2 separate regions of the Homo sapiens genome follow, and region 1 is linked to region 2. The links come from fine-mapping of genetic effects on gene expression. A gene starts in region 2. The other region holds a variant in brackets. All regions are shown on one strand. Distances are between the middles of the regions. Region 1 holds the start of TMEM52B (transmembrane protein 52B). Region 2 holds the start of CLEC2B (C-type lectin domain family 2 member B).

Region 1 (9,676 bases), 310 kb after region 2:
GAACCCAGGAGGCAGAGTTTGCAGTGAGCCGAGATTGCGCCACTGCACTCCAGCCTGGGTGACAGAGCAAGACTCCGTCTCAAAAAAAAAAAAAAAAAAAGTATTCTATGCTTTTGCATGTGTGCTTGTTTTTACTCTAACCTTAGGTTTTATTTTCCTGAGTGACAAGACTTATTTCTCAATCACATCACTCCTTAACCAAAGAGAGAGAGAGAGAGAGAAAGAGAGAGAAAGAAGGAACAAAGAAAAGGCAAGAAAGAAAGAAACCTATACATTTGCTTTTTTAAAATTTGGTTTTAAAAAAATGTCTTTCTCAGTTATCTATTTCAATGGGAAGTGAAGTCAGGGAGGAGGAAGATGTCACTGATAACACCTGAAAATTCTAATCTTCCGACTTGATTTCTCATCTTCAAGTCTGTTTTCTCCAAAGATGAGATGGCTTTCCTGTTCACTTGGCAACCTCTCAGTCTTACCCCAATGCTTAGGGATATAAATGACCCAGAACCAGGAGAGTTGATTATCAACATAGTGAAGGGGAGGGTTTCAAAGAGCAAGAAGGGGTTGTTAGTCACACGGAGAGAGAAGAAAGGAGATTAGCAGGGTGACTTTCACCCTGCAACAGTCACGCTGGAGTACTCTGGTGAAGGATCAAGAATATTACCAGTTTTCTGATGAAGAAAGGAATATATTTGGTCACCAGCAATCTGCCTTTGACCATCCTCAAAGCCAAGTTTTTCATCGCTGTCTAGAAAAATACTTCATTCAGAGGACACATATGTCCTCTTTGAATGTCTCCTTTTTGGGAGCAGTAGGAGAAAGAAACTTCAAGATGTAGAAAGAATTAATAGTGTAACGGAAAGAAAGAAGGCAAAAGGAAGTAAATGTGGAGGCCATAGAAATAGTAATAAGAATAAAGAAGAAAAACAGGAAAGAAGAGGGAAAAGCCATAGAAAATAACAGCCAGAGCGAGTAGGAGGAGACAGAGAGAACGAGAGAGAGAAAAGCTGATAAATTCCTGAGAAAAGTTTCTCTTCTTAAGAATTCTAGGTCAAGAAGTAAAATATGGCACAGAGCATTGAAAGGAGGCAACGGATGCCCAGTGCAAGATTCTGAAGAAGCAGGAATTCAGCCCGATGGGAGTCCGAGTTCATGTCGTGGCGGCCTCAGCCCTGCTGTATTTCATCCTGGTGAGTTCAGTGGTGAAAAGGCAGAAAGAGTATTTTTCCCCAGATTAATCAACTCTCAGAAGAGTCTGAAAGGAAATGAACTGCGGGGTGGGGAGACATATACAGAACCCAGGGGGTCATAGGGAAATGAATAAACTACAAAGTTTCCTTAGTATTACGAGATTGCATAGATGCATGTGTGACTGATGGCAATGACAATGAAAAGGGGGACAGAAATTAGAGTGAGCATGGAAACGAGCAGGATTGCCGTGGCACTTTAGAAGTGCCGCTGAAGTATTTTATCTCTTTTAGCATCTTATCACCCATCCCTCAAAATTCCAAACAAATTATGAAAACTAGGTGTGTAATTCCCCTAAACGGAATTTCCCATCCAGGAATTTCTAATCCTGTTCTAGCAGTTTAGGTGCCTCTAGTCTAGAAATAAGAGAGGCAGGGCTCTTTTAAAATATTTTGGGCCCCACAATGAATCAGAAGTCTCTGAGTAATCCATTAGTGGAGAAAAGGGTCACTGGACTGAGGGATTCTAAACAATTGTCACAGGGAAGTTTATAGAGCTATGCCATCTAGCAAGAAGGAGAGCAAATGAAGAAAACTGGATAGTCTCAGATTCCCGTATGGCCCCCGTACAGAGTGGGCTGTATGGTTTGTTTTTTTTTTTTTTTTGCTAATAGAACAGTTAAAGTGGTATCTGAAAATCCATTTTTTCTTATATTTTCTTTTTGCTTCCTCTTCACTCCCTTTGCCTTGTCTTCCCTTCATTTTTCCTTTCTTTTCTCTTTGCAACAAGCCTGAAAAGTAGCATTTTCTCTGCTGAGCACTTTAGGCTTCTCTTACCTTTAGTGAAGAAAGTGAAAGAAAGTACCATGGTTGCGTAGAGGAAACACACGCTTTTTCATCGTTAGTGGCCATTTCTTTCCAATGAAAACACAAACACGGGTTTCTCAAATGTTACCTGCAAAGGCTGGCCATTAATCCTTTTACAGATCCTTTCCAACTGATAGGTCTTGAGAATGTGTGTCTCCTTACCCCTTCACTACCCGCCATAAACTCCCAATAGTTACAAATCTGTTTCTTTTCTAGGGCCTTTGTGGTTGCTTTCCTGAAATATCAGATCACTCAGGTTATTAGAAGACAGAAGCAACTTCTAGAATTGAGTTTACTTAAATGGTTTGTTGTTGTTGTTGTTGTTGTTTTTAAACGGAGTTTTGCCCTTGTTACCCAGGCTGGAGTGCAGTGGCACGATCTTGGCTGACTGCAACCTCCGCCTCCTGGGTTCAAGCGATTCTCTTGCCTCAGCCTCCCAAGTAGCAGGGATTGCAGGCATGCACCACCACGCCTGGCTAATTTTGTATTTTTTTAGTAGAGATGGGGTTTCACCATGTTGGTCAGGCTGATCTCGAACTCCTGACCTCAAGTGATCCACCCACCTCGGCCTCCCAAAGTGGTGGGATTGCAGGTGTGAGCCACTGCACCCAGCCTTGAATGGGTTTTTGAAAGAGGAAGTCAACTAAAAAATCAGGTAGAAGAAAGAGTGGACAGTTTTGTTTGTTTTTTTGTTTTCTGTAAAGGGAGTAGAAGGGACTTCATAGCAATGTCAAGGAATTGTTAGAGCAAACTTGTCCCCAGTGCTATTAATTCATCCAACACATATCTATGATAGAGTTTGATTTGAATTCTGTCTGCATCAATAGGTGTGTACATTTGGTCACTTTTTTTTTTTTCCAAGATGGAGTCTTGCTCGCCTAGGCTGGAGTGCAGTGGCATGATCTCGGCTCACTGCAACCTCCACTGCCCGGGTTTAAGCAATTCTCCTGCCTCAACCTCCAGAGTAGCTGGGATTACAGGCGCACATCACCACGCCGGGCTAATTTTTGTATTTTTCGTAGAGACGGGATTTCACCATGTTGGCCAGGCTGGTCTCGAACTCCTGACCTCATGATCTGCCCACCTTGGCCTCCCAAAGTGCTGGGATTACAGGCGTGAGCCACCACGCCTGGCCTGGTCACATTACTTAAAACCCTGTGCCTTAGTCCCTTAACCTTTCAAGATAAGGTTAAATATACCCACCAAGAGGGTTATTGTGATTAAATGTTATGAAATATTAAGAGTTCATGGCCGGGCGCGGTGGCTCACACCTGTAATCCCAACAGCACTTTGGGAGGCGGAGGTGGGTGGGTCACTTGAGGTCAGGTGTTCGAGACTAGCCTGGCCAACATGGTGAAACCCTGTGTCTACTAAAAATACAAAAATTAACCAGGCGTGGTGGCACGTGCCTGTAGTCCCAGCTACTCGGGAGGCTGAGGCAGGAGAATTGCTTGAACCCGGGAGGTAGAGGTTGCAGTGAGCCAAGATCACGCCACTGCACTCCAGCCTGGGTGACAGAGCAAGACTCAAAAAAAAAAAAAAAAAAAACAAAAAAAAAAAACTTGTTAGCAGTCTGAGTGGCATCTAGTAGCTATTCGATAAATAAGACTCTCTGTCCCACTGGCCCCCTCGCTTTTCCCCTTCTTCCTTTGTATAGTCATTGTCACACTAACAGGATAAAAAAAGAGCAGTGGTGTAGAATTCAACTGGGCAGGAATTAGGAGGACAATGGCAATATCCCAAGGGACAGAGAGATCAGGAATTTTCTACTACAAACAAATTAATGTAAATGGCTACCTCTCATTCACAAAGGGTGATGCTCACCCACCATCAACACAACAGATGAGATATTTGTTCTTCAAGGTTCCCTTACCTCAAGTACAAAAGCCAGCAAGTATGGGAGAGATGAAAATGGCAGTCCTAAATAGACTGCCCCTATGACCGTGACCTTCTTACTGCTTGATCTAACACAGCACAACCATGAGAGATGATTGGTAAGCAGCTGAACACAGTGGCCAAAACAATTTCCCTGTATAAGACAATTTCTCTTTCTACAGCTTTCTGGGACGAGATGTGAGGAAAACTGTGGTAATCCTGAACAGTAAGTATAGAGTTCAAGCTGGGAGGAAGGAGCAACAGACCAAAACATCACTACCCCAAAAGAGAGTCAAGATGTCATTAGACATCTATGACTTCTTTTTATTTATTTTTACTTAAGTAATAGATCTCATAGATGACTTATCACAAAATAAAGACGTGTTTTTGTCATCTTAAGCACTCAAAATAACACTGCTGACAGCATGTTTTTACCCAAAGCCAATCTTCCCATCAAAGCAGCACGATTAATCTCAACTTATACAGTCATAGAGACTTGCAAAAGACTTCCTTAGCCCTGCTCCTCAGTGACTCACCAGGACAGACGGTTTAGTATCTAGTCACTGGCATATATATTTGGGTGATTTCCAAAGTAACATTATTACTTTAAATTGGGAAAGTATTTTCTAGTTTTTAGGGCATGTTAACATTTATTGGGCAGACTTCATTTAGCTATCACTTTGATGTAGTTATCAACTAATCCAAACCTGTCACACTTAAGTCTTATGTAGACACAGAGGACATGAAGATAAAAATGCAAAAGAATCATTCCACTTAAAGGAACTGTAAAATACAAATTTTAAAAAGTAGTGGCACTTTGAATAAAAACGTGTTTAGGATGAAGAAAAATACATATTTAGCCATGGGAAGGGTTTCCCAATAGCCAGGTCTGTTAAACCCAGGGAAAGGGTGATAGCCTTGATTACCTGTCACATGCAAATTGGGTGTTGACTACTTGACACCTGCTTTCTGAGGTTTTACACATCTTCCACCATAGGAAGAGTCCTTTCCTATAAACCAGAGTCTAATTAGAACTAGAAGAGTTTTCAACAAGTAAGAAATGTGGGAAAACCAAGAGGAGTCATTGTTCAGTGAAAAACAAAACAAAACTATATTTTCTATAAATGTGTGACCAGAGAATAAAAATAGATTCACTAGATTTCAGTAGATTCCTGTATCAGAAAGAATTATTAAATAACAAAATTTACTACTCTTCAAAGATACACAAATATTTTGCCTCCCCTCATTCTCCAATTCCTGAACTTATCTTCTCCTTCTCCCATACAATCCCTATTTTTTTTTCATTCTTACAGAGAAAATTTACAATTGCCATAGTGAACTCAGAACATTATTTAGCTTTCATCATGGTAAAGTTGGCTTCTACTTTTTTCCCTCTTCCTGTTTGGTCTCAGTGGATATGCAAATTAGTTTTGATCCTGGATGTGAAAAATTAGGGTACTCTTTACGGTGGGTGTGATATTGTGAGAATATATATTTGGTTTTGTCCCTATCTCCTAGCATACAACTTCTAAAATCCCCAAAGTAAGTAGCATCATTTTGCATGCTAATGAGTTGATTGGTGGCTGGCAGCCCCTAGGTAGATTTAGGATGGGGCTGGTCATTGGAAGGACCAATGCAGAATGCTTAAAGCCTCACCCCTCAACATCCAAGGAAAGTAGAGGGGCTGAAGTTTAAGTTGATCATCAATGGCCAATGATTTAATCAATCACGCCTACATAATGAGGCTTTCATGAAAATCCCAAAGGATGGATTTGAAGAGTTTCTGTAAAGCTGAACAGGCAGTGGTTTCTGAAGGGTGGTGCACTCGGAAGACCTGCAAGCTCCGTGCCCCTTCCCACATGCTTTGCTCTACGCATCTCTTCATCCGCATCCTCGGTAATATTCTTTGTAATAAACTGTAGATGTAAGTAAGTGTTTCCCGGAGTTCTGTGAGCTGCTCTAACAAATTAACGCAACCTCAAGAGGGAGTCAGGGAACCCCCAATTTATAACCAGTAGGTCAGAAGCACAGGCAAAACAAATTGTGATTGGCATCAGAATTCTGGGGAGCCGTCTAGGGGACTGAGTCCTCACCCTATGGGATCGGATCCTATCTCCAAGCAGGTGGTGTTGGCATTGAATTGAATTAGAGGACGCTCAGCTGTTGTCTGTTGCTGGAAGATTGCTTGCCTGGTGTGTGCGGAAATCCTCACCCACCCACATCTGGTGTCAGAGGGTTGGGAGAGTATAGCAGGAAGAAACTAAGTTTTTTTTTTCCTACATTCTCAGTGGGAGTGTTGCAACAGCTTGCAAAAGATAAATTACAAATGTGATTGTATGACTTTCATACTCATAACTGAAATTTTCTTTATGTTTA[C/G]ATTTTATTGACCTCAAATATACACAAGCCTTAAGTTTCACATCCATTTTCAAAGTTACTCTTTGTAAACTTGCATTCCAAGTTCTTTCTTAGTATTTTTTTTTTCTTTTTGAGATGGCGTCACCACGGCCGGCTAATTTTTGTATTTTTAGTAGAGATGGGGTTTCACTATGTTGGCCAGGCTGGTCTCCAACTCCTGACCTCGTGATCTGCCAGCCTTAGCCTCCCAAAGTGCTGGGATTACAGGCATGAGGCACCGCACCTGGCCCTTTCTTGGTCATTTTTATCATAAATGTTTGCAATAGGCACAGACATGTTTTCTATGGACACTTCTAATGATCACTAGTTTGTTTTATAATGATTTACAAAATGACTCAGACAATGCCATCTATAGTATAAAGTACTATTTAAAGCATATCATTTGGCAAAAGATTCAACTAGCTACAGTGAATTTTAAAAACATAACCCATGGTGCTTTATTTATAACAAGGTATCACATCATATTGTAACTCATATTTCTGAGTCTGGAGTTATAACAGGGATTGACTATATTTTTAATGTAGAAAACTTTATTCTTTCTTTATAGTTGCCTGACCACAGACTGGGTACATCTCTGGTATATATGGTAAGTTTCACTTATAATACCCAGAAAGACACTGTATTCCTCAAGGCCATTAAAAATGACAACCTGCCTACTTACTTAGCATCTCATGGAGTAAGATTTCATTACTTCATCACTACCTATGTGACAATATGTCAGGATTTCCTTTTTCAATACCATCTCCTCCGCAAACATCAAACCATTACTGTGTCCTTCCCTCGGAGTCTGTTCTAGAAATATCTCAACGAAGATTACTTTAGTGAATTAAAAAGCAGAGCCTGGCCGGGCGTGGTGGCTCACACCTGTAATCCCAACACTTTGGGAGGCTGAGGCAGGCAGATCACTTTGAGGCCAGGAGTTCGAGACCAGCCTGAGCAAAATAAAGAAACCCCCATCTCTATTAAAAATACAAAAAAAGTTGGGCGCGGTGGCTCACACCTGTAATCCTAGCACTTTGGGAGGCCGAGACAGTGGATTATCTGAGGTCAGGAGTTCAAGACCAGCCTGACCAACCTGGAGAAACTCCGTCTCTACTAAAAATACAAAATTAGCTGGGCGTGGTGGCACATGCCTGTAATCCCAGCTACTCAGGTGGTTGAGGCAGGAGAATCGATTGAACCCAGGAGGCAGAGGTTGCGGTGAGCTGAAATTGTGCCACTGCACTTCAGCCTGGGCAACAAGAGCAAAACTCTGTCTAAAAAAAAAAAAATTAGTCGAGTGTGGTGGCATGTGCCTATAGTACTGGCTACTCAGGAGGCTGAGATCGTGCCACTTCACTCCAGCCTGGGCAACAGAGCAAGACTCTGTCTCAGAAAAGAAAAAAGAAGCAGCCCCCCAAACTACCTTAAATGTCTTACTATTTGTTCTAATGAATTGACTTACTGCAGCTGACAAAATAAGGAGGTGTATCTATAAAGCAAAAGCCTTGAAATTAAAATTATAAATTAAAATATTTATAATTATTCTATAAAATGTTTAGACAAGAATCAAAACACAGACATTAAAGACTGGTTACAGCAGAGCTGGGAAAAAAGCCAGATCCCAGAGCTCCCACTCGCCCCGTGGGCTTTTGCAGGTTGCTAGTGGTAATTGGCGCGCTGCTTCTCCTGTGTGGCCTGACGTCCCTGTGCTTCCGCTGCTGCTGTCTGAGCCGCCAGCAAAATGGGGAAGATGGGGGCCCACCACCCTGTGAAGTGACCGTCATTGCTTTCGATCACGACAGCACTCTCCAGAGCACTATCACATGTGAGTACACTGAACTTTTAACCTGGGAGGAGGACCCAATTTAAGGGAATAATGAAAAGGGTGCAAAGGTGTAGAACCACTGATCGAGTAATATTAAAGATTCCAGGACTCACAATAATTTCCATTCCCAGAAGCCTGATGGTGCAGTGACCTGGGCTGTCACTGAAGCTGTGTTCTCAAGGGTCTGTCTGGCTCATGATAAAGAAAGAAGTGAAATATTGGAGGCTATTGGAAATATTGAATAGGAAGAATTAGCCAGTTTATAAATAGTTACTTTGCTAAAAACTATTTTGAACTCCAAACGGATGCCTTTTTCAAAACGTCTTGGATTTTGTGAAATCTACTTTTTCTATTATCTATACTATTTTATATTTTTAAAGAAATTAATGACATGTACTTTCAGTTCTTTATTCTTCAAGGCTTGATACACTAAATTTTAGCCTTAACATTTTCTCAATGATTATAAGACACTTTCCCTTTTCTTCTGTGGTTCTATTCTTTCCATGACGGTTTTTTTTTTTTTTTTTTTTTGAGATGGAGTCTTGTTCTGTCGCCCAGACTGGAGTGCAGTGGTGCAATCTCAGGCTCACTGCAACCTCCGCCTTCCGGGTTCAAGTAGTTCTCTCCCTTAGACTCCAGAGTAGCTGAGATTACAGGCACCTGCACCATGCCTGGCTAATTTTTGTATTTTTAGTAGACACGAGGTTTCACCATCTTGGCCAGGCTGGTCTCAAACTCCTGACCTTGTGATCCACCTGCCTCCGCCTCACAAAGGGCTGGGATTACAGGCGTGAGCCACCATGCCTGGCCAAAATGGTTACTTTCTTTTTTTGACACGGAGTCTCCCTCTGTTGCCCAGGCTGGAGTGCAGTGGTGGGAATCTCAGCTCACTGCAACCTCCGCCTCCTGGGTTGAAGAGATTCTCATGCCTCAGCCTCCTGAGTAGCTGGGATTACAAGCAGCCACCACCACACCAGGCTATATTTTTTTAAATTTTTATTTATTTATTTGTTTATTTTTATTATTGGTAGAGACAATTTACCATGTTGGCCAGGCTGGTCTCAAACTCCTGACCTCATGATTCACCTGCCTCTGTCTCCCAAAATGCTGAGATTACAAGCATAAGCCACTGTGCCTGGACTATGCTCTTTCCTAAAATTGAGGAGCAAGTACCAGTCAGAACACCAGCTGGCAAAATGTGGATATTTATTTTGAAAAGAGAGTGATGGCTGGGCGCAGTGGCTCATGCCTGTAATCCCAGAACTTTGGGAGGCTGAGGCAGGTGGCTTACTTGAAGTCAGGAGTTCGAGACCAAGCTGGTCAACATGGTGAAACCTCGTCTCTACTAAAAATACAAAAACTAGCCAGGCATGGTGGCACACACCTGCAATCCCAGCTACTTGGGAAGCTGAGGCGTGACACTCGCTTGAACCCGGGAGGCAAAGGTTGAAGTGAGCCGAGATCGTGCCACTGCACTCCAGCCTGGGTGAGCGACAGAGAAAGACCCTGTCTCAAAACAACAACAACA
Region 2 (9,676 bases):
AAAGCTGACCTTCAAATATGAAGAAGAGACAATGTTTCCCAGACAAACAAAAACTGAGAGAATTCACCACCACCAGACATATCTTATAAGAAATGCTAAAGGGAGTTCTTCAACCAAAAAGAAAAAAACACACGAACAGAAAACAGCTGAATATCTAAAATACACTGATAAAATTAAGTGTATGCACAAACCCAGAATACTCTAATACTGTAATTGTGGTGCACAATCTTCTCATATCCCTAGTAATGAAGACTGGAAGATAAATCTATCAAGAACAATGATAACTGCAGAAACCAGTTAAGAGGTAAGCAATAAAAATATGTGAATTGGGAAAACTAAATTAAAAATGTGTGAGGGTGGAGTAAAAGTGTTTTTTTCCTTTGTTGCTATTCTTTGTGATATAAGTTGTTATCTCTTTAAAATAACTTGTTATATCTATAAGATTTTTTATAAGCCTCATAGTAATCACAATGCAAAACCTATAGTAGAGTCATTAAAAATAAAAAGCAACTAATTAATATATACCACCAGAGAAAATTATATAACCCCAAAGAATGACAGTAAGAAAAGAAAAAAGAGAGAAATTTAAAAACAACCATAAAACAAGCAACAAAACAGCCCCAGAAAATCCTTACTTAACAATAACATGGAATTTAAATGAACTCAACTCTCCAATTAAAAGACATAAAGTGCAGGCCGGGTGCAGTGGCTCACGCCTGTAATCCCAGAATTTTGGGAGGCCAAGGCAGGCAGATCATTTGAGGTCAGGAGCTCAAGACTAGCCTGTCCAACATAACGAAACCACATTTCTACTAAAAATACAAAACTTAGCTTGGTGTGGTGGTGTATGCCTGTGATCCTGGCTACTCAGGAGGCTGAGGCAGGAGAGTCGCTTGAATCCAGGAGTTGGAGGCTGCAGTGATCTGAGATCATGCCACTCCACTCCAGCCTGGGCAATAAAGCAAGACTCTCTCAAAAAAAAAAAAAAAAAAAAAGCATAAAGTTAAAGTGGCTGACTTGGTAAAGAGAAAACCCTAACTGTATGCAGCCTACAGGAAATCTGCTTCACCTATAAAGACACACAGAGAATGAAAGTGAAGGGGATGAACAAAGATATTCCATGCAAATAGAAACCAAAAAAGCCGGAGCAGCTATACTTATATCAGATAAAATAGATTACAAAACTTTAAAAGACTACTTTAAAAAGAGACAAAGGTTACTATATAATGCTAAAGAGGTCAATTCAGCAAGAGGATATGACAGTTCTAAAAATCTATGGACCCAACACCAGATCTCCCAAGTATATAAAGCAAACATTCATTGATCTAAAGGGAGAGATAGACTGCAATGCAATAATATTGGGGGACTTTAACTCCTCACCCTGAGTAATGGACAGATAATCTAAACAGGAAATCAACAAGGAATATTGGAGTTATACTGCACACTTTACCAAATATATCCAACTGACACGTACAGAAGCACTGCTGCAGAATACTCATTATTTTTATCAGTACATGGAGCATTCTCCAGAACAGACCACATTGTAGGCCAAAAAACAAGTCTCAATAAATTAAAAAAAGTAGAAATCTAATCAAGTATCTTTTCTGACCACAATGGGATGAAACTAGAAGTCAATAACTTGAGAAACCTCAGAAACTGCACAAACATGAAAATTAAATAATGTGCTCCTTAACGACCAAAGAGTCAATGTTGAAATTAAGAAAATTTTAAAAATTTCTTGAAACAAATGAAAATGGAAGCACAATAAACTAAAATCTGTGGAATGCAGAAAAGCAGTACAAAGAAGGAAGTTTATAGTAATAAATGCCTTTAAAAAAAGGTAAAAAGACTTCAGATAAATAACCTAATGATGAACTTAAAGGATTTGTAAGAGCAAGAACAAACCAAACCCCAAATTAGTAGAAAAAAGAAGTGTTAAAAAATCAAGCTCTTTCTGATGAGGTTTCTTATCTTTCATATATAACCTTATTAATATCATGAATTATTTATTAATTTTCTTTAAACCTCAGGTATCGAAAAGACAGGAAGTTTTTTCTCTGTTTTCAATGCCATGAATCAAGTAAATATGTCAGTATGTCATTCCGTTTTTCTCCCCATGAATTGGCATAATGTAAAAATATAGATGTTAGAGATATCATGATTTCAAAATCTTGATCAAACCTTTGTGGCATGTAATTGTATTTTCTTACCCCCATTTGATCCTATACTCTTCATCCATTAACTAGTACCACTTCTATTTTTTTTTAAAGAGCATATGTGTGTTGTGTTTTTAGAAAGTATAGTTACAACAGGAAGTAAATAAAAGGTAACTTTTGCTATTATTTTTTTCTTGTGTTATAGTTGTCCTGTTTTTAAATATTTTAATTATTTTGTGTGTGTTAAGAGTGTAAAGATTATTTACATTTGCAGCAAGTGGAAGTATTTTTTGAGTCAATTTCATATCTGTTATTTGAAGGAGGTAGTCAGACCATTTTGATATTCTTTCTTCCAGAATGACTGTTGAAAAGAAAACCCTAAGCTGCTTAAATCAATGGCCTTTTCAATTAAAAAAAAATCTAGCTTATTGAAGTAATGTTTCTGAAAATTGTGAAGGGATTTTAAAAAGAGGAAATAACTTCGAGCTAACAGGTAGAGAGAAGGGCAATGCACATCCTGACAATATGAGAAATGACAATTTGCAGATACAGCGGAAAATAGGAGCCCTTTCCATTGCAAAGTTGGCAAGGTATTAGAGTATAAGGACTTGGTGGTGTATACAGAGTTGGTAGATTTTACGTACAGATGACCCCAGCTTCAAAAAAGATGATCGTACTTTAAATGTGGCAAAGAAACAGTGTGGCTTTTGTTATGAGTTCAGCACAAAATAGCAGAGCTAGACCCGAAGAGGTCATTTATATTGGAACATGGTCTTCTCAGGTGTAATCAGTGGAAACTGATGAATGGAGACCATTATAACACTTTGGTGTCTTATACAACCTGGGAAACTTCATATAACCTTGGAAGAAATCTCTCACTCTCAATACCACCAAATGACAGAAAGTAAGTAAACTGTCCTGTCCATTCAGTGGGATGGAGACTTGAAGTAACATTTAATTTTATTTAAATAACTAATGAATTCAACATTTATTGCATGTCTGAATATGTAGGTACAAATTTAAACCTATTATGTGTTCATTCTCTACTTAATCTATATCGTGAACCCTGAAATCTAGCTTTTTACACTCAGCATAAGTTGTTTTCAGTTGTTTTTAATTTCCCAGAATCTTTTCATTGTTACTGAATTCTCAATACTTATTTAGGAGGCTGTAATTATTTACATGAGTTATCAGAAAAATTAGTGGCATTGGTAGAATGTGGTTAGCATAGCTGCCTTTCAAACAAATTAAAAAATTGTGATCTCCCACGATGAAGCTGATATCGAAACATGAATTTCAAAGTTGTTGAGCCTTCTTAACGTTTGATGAGGCTATGCTTAAAAGGACACTTCCCCAGACAGTTCGAGAACAATGGATTTAATTAACAGTGTAACTAAAATAGTTCTATATTTAAATGTATAATCTAAACAGTTAAGGACTGCAATTGTTTTCCCCATAGAAAAGTTTCAGTGACTCAACTGTTTTCTGTTTGATTCTGCTCTCTAAGGAAAGATAAGAAAGATGCAGAGTGACCAATGCATTTAAAATCAAACAGAATATTATTTTTCTTGGCTAATAGCTATAGAAAAAAATCATAAAATACTGATAAGCAGAGCAAATAAAATATTTGTTAAAATGTATATAAAAACTGACTGAATTATATCACACTGCCCTAAATTACCGCTATTAAAACGATGTTCATAATTTCAGATATATATGTATCTATAATATATACAATATTATACTGAATATATTATTCAGTAACTTTTAAAATATATTCATATGTAATATGATATATAATATTGTATTATATAATGTATTTATATACAAATGTATAAATTTATACAATTGATTGAAAGTAGAAAATAACACTGGTTTTACTAGTGGCTGGAAGGCCTTCTTAAAACTTTTGATTAAAATGATATTTTATGCTACCATCAAATATTGATCTCATTCCCCGCAAACCTGTTTTATCTAACTTTAGGCAGAATTATAAAACCGGTTAAAATACGGGAGGAAGGATAAAGTGTGCATTCTATTGTACCACAGCAATAATTTTTTTGACCGTAGCATACGCTGGTAGGTTGACATTTAGTTAAACGGGAAATGCTTAAAGCTCATCACAGTCCCTAAATCTCTAAATCATAGATCGTTGTATTGAATGCATTTAGTTTCAGCCTTTTCTCTTTCAAATATTTTGACATAAATAAACCCTGTTGAAATCTCAAAGATGTAGCTTGGATCTTATATATTCCGAACTTGCTATTTAATAAATCCAATGTTACCAGGTTGTTTCATAGTGTATTTTTTAGAACATTTTCTTTCCTTATCCTTCTTAGGGTTGGTAAAGACATCTCCATGGATATCGGAGTACTAGCAATTCCTTAGTAAGAGTAGGAAAGGGATATATTCTTTCCGTTAAGTACTCCTAAAGCCCGGAGTATCTTTACACCATCCAATAAAGCAATCTTTAAAAATATTAGAACTATTGGCTAAATTTATCATATTATGTATGCATTCTGAGAACTGTATGAGTATCTGGATCATATCTATCATCTTCTCAAGTATTTGTTTTATAAAATACTTAGTAAAAATGAAACTAAATCTTGAGCAGTTTTAAGTCATGGTTAATCCTTCTCCATTGTAATTCAAATAATGTAAAGTAAGTCTGAATTTATTAGGACAAAACAGTCATATGCAAATCTCAATCTTGTTATAAGAAGGAATTTTCTAGTTTCACAAAAGAAACCACAAAATTTAATTCTTTTCTCGAAGGCTTTAACATTCTGCATCACAATTTCAATAAATAACGGTCATTCTAAACAAACAAAAATGTTCTTACCGTGCTTCTTTTAATCAGCGTTTTGATTTTCTGCTAGCAGCTTTGTGTCATGTCTTGCAGAAACTCTCTTCAAAGTTGTAACTTTATTTAACTTTAATATAAAAATGTTACTCTTGTTTTTACAGCACAGCTCCAAACTAGAGGTATACCACTTTTGAAGAGTAACTCAAAGTATAAATAGCATTTTGCAAACTGGAAGTAACCATGTGACTATCTATTAGTCATACTGTTGTTTATTACAATTTTCTTCTCGTCAAAAAAGAAAGCTTGCCAAGGAGGAAGGAAGTTTGTGATATAACAATTTAAAGCTGAAGAATAAACACATATTTTCTTACTTTCTCAACTGGGATTCTCATCTGAACCACAGAACACGAAATTGCTCAAGTGGCTGTTTTTCTGATTCATCCAGGAGTGGTACTTAACCACGTATCCTTCCAGAACTGTAGGAGAGGCTGATACTAATTAATTCAACAGCATTCTTTAGGACATTACTGCTTTCTTATCCTGTGTTAAGAAAGATCACCTTAAAAGCGATAGAATCAAAGAAAAAGCAATGGTTTAAACTTTGGCTACTGAAAGAAAAACAAAAACTATTATCTCTCTCTCAAAGACAAATGCGTGCAAAGTCACACGTGTGGGTGTGAGCACACACACAAACACACACAAAGACACACAGAGGGAAAAAAGAAAACGAAAGTAACAAAGTGCCCAGAACGTTATCATCAGCATACAAGATGACACCATTATGCTTTTGCTAAGTTACCAGGCCACAATTTTGTCTTCAAATCTGCTCTAATCAGTTTCCCAGTGATTTTGTATTACCCCTCAACAAATATATTAGGGAGGAAACTGAGGAGAAGAAGCCAGTGTCCCGCAAGCGGCTTCGGGATTAACACTGCATTTGTTCTGAGAGAGAAACTTGAAGAGGAAAAGCAAATGAGAATAGAGAAGAAACTGTAGTACAAAGGAATTAAAACAAAGAAAATATGAAGAGAATAAGAAATACAGGTTTAATCATTTCTGGGCAGAAGGAAAGGACAGATAACAAAATTGCTCTTTTCATTTTTGGACAGAAAAAAAAGACAGAAAATTCATGAGGAAATGAATATATTCTACCTTTGTTGTTAACAAAAGATTGTATCCAAAGAACTATTAGAAAAGCATGTATAGAAAAATATAGAGATTACTCAAGTATGGTTGAGTGAAATTTAGTTTTGTTCCAAAAAGGAAAACAGTCAAGATACAACAGTTAAGATATAAAACATTTTCAACACAGGGAAATGTTCCCCGCTGTTGCTTTGCAGTTCATCCTCACCCCTGAAGCCAGGCAGCAGCCAACTTACTGTCAATAAACATGAGCTTTGCTGGTTTTAGAAATTCCTGTTAAGCAGAATGATACAGTTGGCAATTCTTGTAAGTCTGATGTCTTTCACTGAGCATAATGTTTTTGAGTTTTATCCATGTTTTTGCACAGATCAGCAGTTAATTTCTTTTTATTACTGAGTAGTATTTCATTGTACAGACATAAAATATTTTTATCTATTTTATAATAAAATGTATCCATTATGACATTGAGCTTTTTCCACTTCTTGGATATCATAAGGTCAAAATAAACATTTATGCAAAAGTTTTTCTATTGACACGTTTTTTAATCTTTTGAAGAAATACCTGGATGTGAAACTGCTAGGTTACATAGAAAATGTATGTTTTATTTTATAAATGTATTTTTTTCCAAAAAGTTGTGCCATTCCCAACATGAATATTGGATGGTTCTATTTGCTCCACATAAATAGCAATATTAGATATGCCCAATCTTTTTCAATTTAACCATTCTAGTAGGCGTGTAGTAGAATCTAAATGTGATTTTAATTTGTACATCTCTGATGTTATATTGAGCATTTACTCACGTGCGTATTGGTAACTCATATATCTTTTTTCAATGACCTATTTAAATATTTTTCCCATTTTTATGGATTTATTTGTTTCCTTATGGTGATTTTTAAGATTTTATATATATGTAAATATATATGTAGAGAAACATACACATAAAAATGTGTATATAAATAAGTAAAATGGGTTGCAACATAATATAGAAAAATTCCATTTTTAGATAAATGTATTAAAAATACTTTCCATCATTTGTATAGTGACTTTTCACAATTTTTTTTCTCAAAAATTTTAAAAATCTAGAAGCTTCTAAACGTTGGACTCTCTAATCCTAACAAAGTTACATGTTCTCCCTTGTCGAGGTCATGCCTTTTTCCTTAAAGAAAATATTGTGCCCTTCACACCCTCCTTACAGGAATCCCTCCCTTACTTGCCTTTCTTAGTTATTGGTCATAAGGCCAATAACTAAGGTTATGTGCTAAGCTTATAAGGGAGAGAAAGGGCTATACTCAGAATGAATTTGGACCTAACCAATATATAATAACAACAGCTTGGAGTGTACACAATGGGATTGGATTCTGAGGGTGCTAGATCATGAGAGAAACATAAAGCTGGATAAGGGAGATTTTATCAACATTAGGGCATTCAGTTGCAATACAGAATTTAATAACTTGGAAAAATACTGTGAACAGTGCTGACATACTGCTGAAATAACTCCAAGAAGATTGGAGAAAGCAATGGCTCACGCTGAGTAGAGTAACATTCCAGAATTCCCATGGCAGGTAGCTGAAGAAAAGATAAAAATGCTTAGAGAAGTGGGCATGCTACAGTGGATAAACTAGATAAGGACAGGAAACCCACCAACTGACTATGTTCTATGGGATGATATAATGGGCACCTTATTTACCAAAGCAGTAAGGAAGGCGCTGGTGGAAGAACTTAAGTCCTACATAAACATCACTGAGAAGCTTAGCATAGTTCTTCTCTACATGCCAAAGATTACAGTGGGAGATGTTCCCACAGAACTGAATTCAGAGAGAGTATTGGGACAGGGTTTGAAGTAGGAAACGCCAAGTGTCAGAGTGCCACTCTGAAACAAGCTGGGGCCAATTATAGTAATGAGGGTCAAATTGCAATAGCAGCCAGGATTACTGACATATAGAGCCATAGCAATGTCAGATAGAGCTCAATGTTCACAGAAGTAATATAGAGAGCCAAAAAGGGTGCTTCCACTTCTGTGCTGTCCTTTAACAACTGGTGGAACAGAGAAAAACACACACATAACAAGCTCTGGTTTGTAACACCAGCTGATTTCCGTGATGTAATTATTCCCACCATTGCTGATTTCAAGGTACCCAGGTGACATCACTGAACACACAGAGTTGGAAATAAATATGCAGTAGTACAGCATTACGTATTATTTTCACTATACGGATGTAACAGATGTTAATAATTTCATGCATGGATAATAGCAAAATCTTCTAAAAATCATCACAAATTGATGAGTTCTAAGTATTTATTTTATTAGCTTGGCATTAGGGCCACAATGACTCCAAATGTCATGACCCAGGTTAGGTTCCAGCCCATGCTGAGGTCTGAGGGGAGTGGGTGGATGGGCGATAGCTGAAAGAACACTTGGGGGCCCTAAGCAGGTGAAATGTAGTTTTATTTACCAACAGCGACTCTCTCACACTGTCTGCCTTTATCTCCGCTGTCTGCTCTGGCTCTGGGACTCCTGCCGCCGCCACGCCTGCAGCAGCACGCCCTGGCCTGCAAGGCCAGCTCTGTCAGGATTAGCAGCTTAACTCTTTCCCTCTGGGCACAAGCTCGTTCCTGGTTCCCCTCTGCCTGCCTTCAAGGCGACTGGCTCTCCCTTACAAGGGTCAATAGTGCTACTCTCTTTCTGGGCACCAGTGCGAGCCATGTCATGCCATGCCACGCCATGCTGAGCCAAGGCAAGCCCAAGAGCGCCTGTACAGCATCAGCAGGGCAGTTATACCTTTTCCAAACAATAGTGGATTTGAGCCAAGTATGAGCTTACACAAACAGGTTATATAACAAGTGGAGTTATATGCCTGCACTCCAAACTCATTAAGTCACTATGGCCTGGATGTCTGCCTCAGCCTACTTCTTGACCAAAGCACATTTATGCACCTTACTGTTGGTGCAAAAGTTACTTTAGATAATTTTTAAAAATAATGATGTTTAACAATTGGCTCGAGAACCCTTGAAAATTTAACAGTCAGCTGTATACCACTGACTTTGCTGGACATGTACAACGGGAAAGAAATCAAGGGTGGATTACTAGTAGGCTAAGGGCAACCATGTACTCAAAACGTATAAACTATTACCCTAATCTAGTTTGGCCCAAGCCAGTTTTCTGACAGAGGACCCAATAATGGGAGAACTCATCCTTAAAAAGAAGCCCTCTTCAACACCAAGACTAGAGTAAATGGTAAGTATTTCTCCAGTCCATCCCCAGTGCGACTTATATTAGGCTTCTCAAGCTACCATAATGAAATAACATAGGCTGGGTGGCTTAAACAACAGAAATTTATTTTTCATCATTCTGGAGGCTCAAAGCCTAAGATCAAGGTGCTAGCCAGGTTAGTGTTCAATGAGGTCTCTCTTCCTGGAGCCGACTACTGCCTTCTCACTGTGTCCTCACATGACATTTTCTCTGTGTATGTGCAGAGAGGGTATCTTTCCCTCTTTTTATATGTATACCAGTCTTATGAGATTAAGGCCTTACCCTTATGACCTTATTTAACCTTAGGTTCCTCCTAAAGAC

The links. PIP is the estimated chance that this variant, and not a neighbour inherited with it, causes the effect.
Region 1: its variant is fine-mapped to the expression of CLEC2B in tibial nerve (GTEx, PIP 0.95).

The regions. Positions count from the first base shown.
Region 1 is chr12:10,178,442-10,188,117 of GRCh38, forward strand. It overlaps TMEM52B (transmembrane protein 52B), which reads left to right and starts at 591. Exons shown (of 5, transcript NM_001384896.1): 1 at 591-1,187; 2 at 4,109-4,152; 3 at 6,889-6,927; 4 at 7,979-8,148. The coding sequence starts at 1,134. RefSeq lists an enhancer at 949-2,148. The variant C/G (reference allele first, on the strand shown) is at 6,303.
Region 2 is chr12:9,864,207-9,873,882 of GRCh38, forward strand. It overlaps CLEC2B (C-type lectin domain family 2 member B), which reads right to left and starts at 5,148. Exons shown (of 5, transcript NM_005127.3): 1 at 4,999-5,148.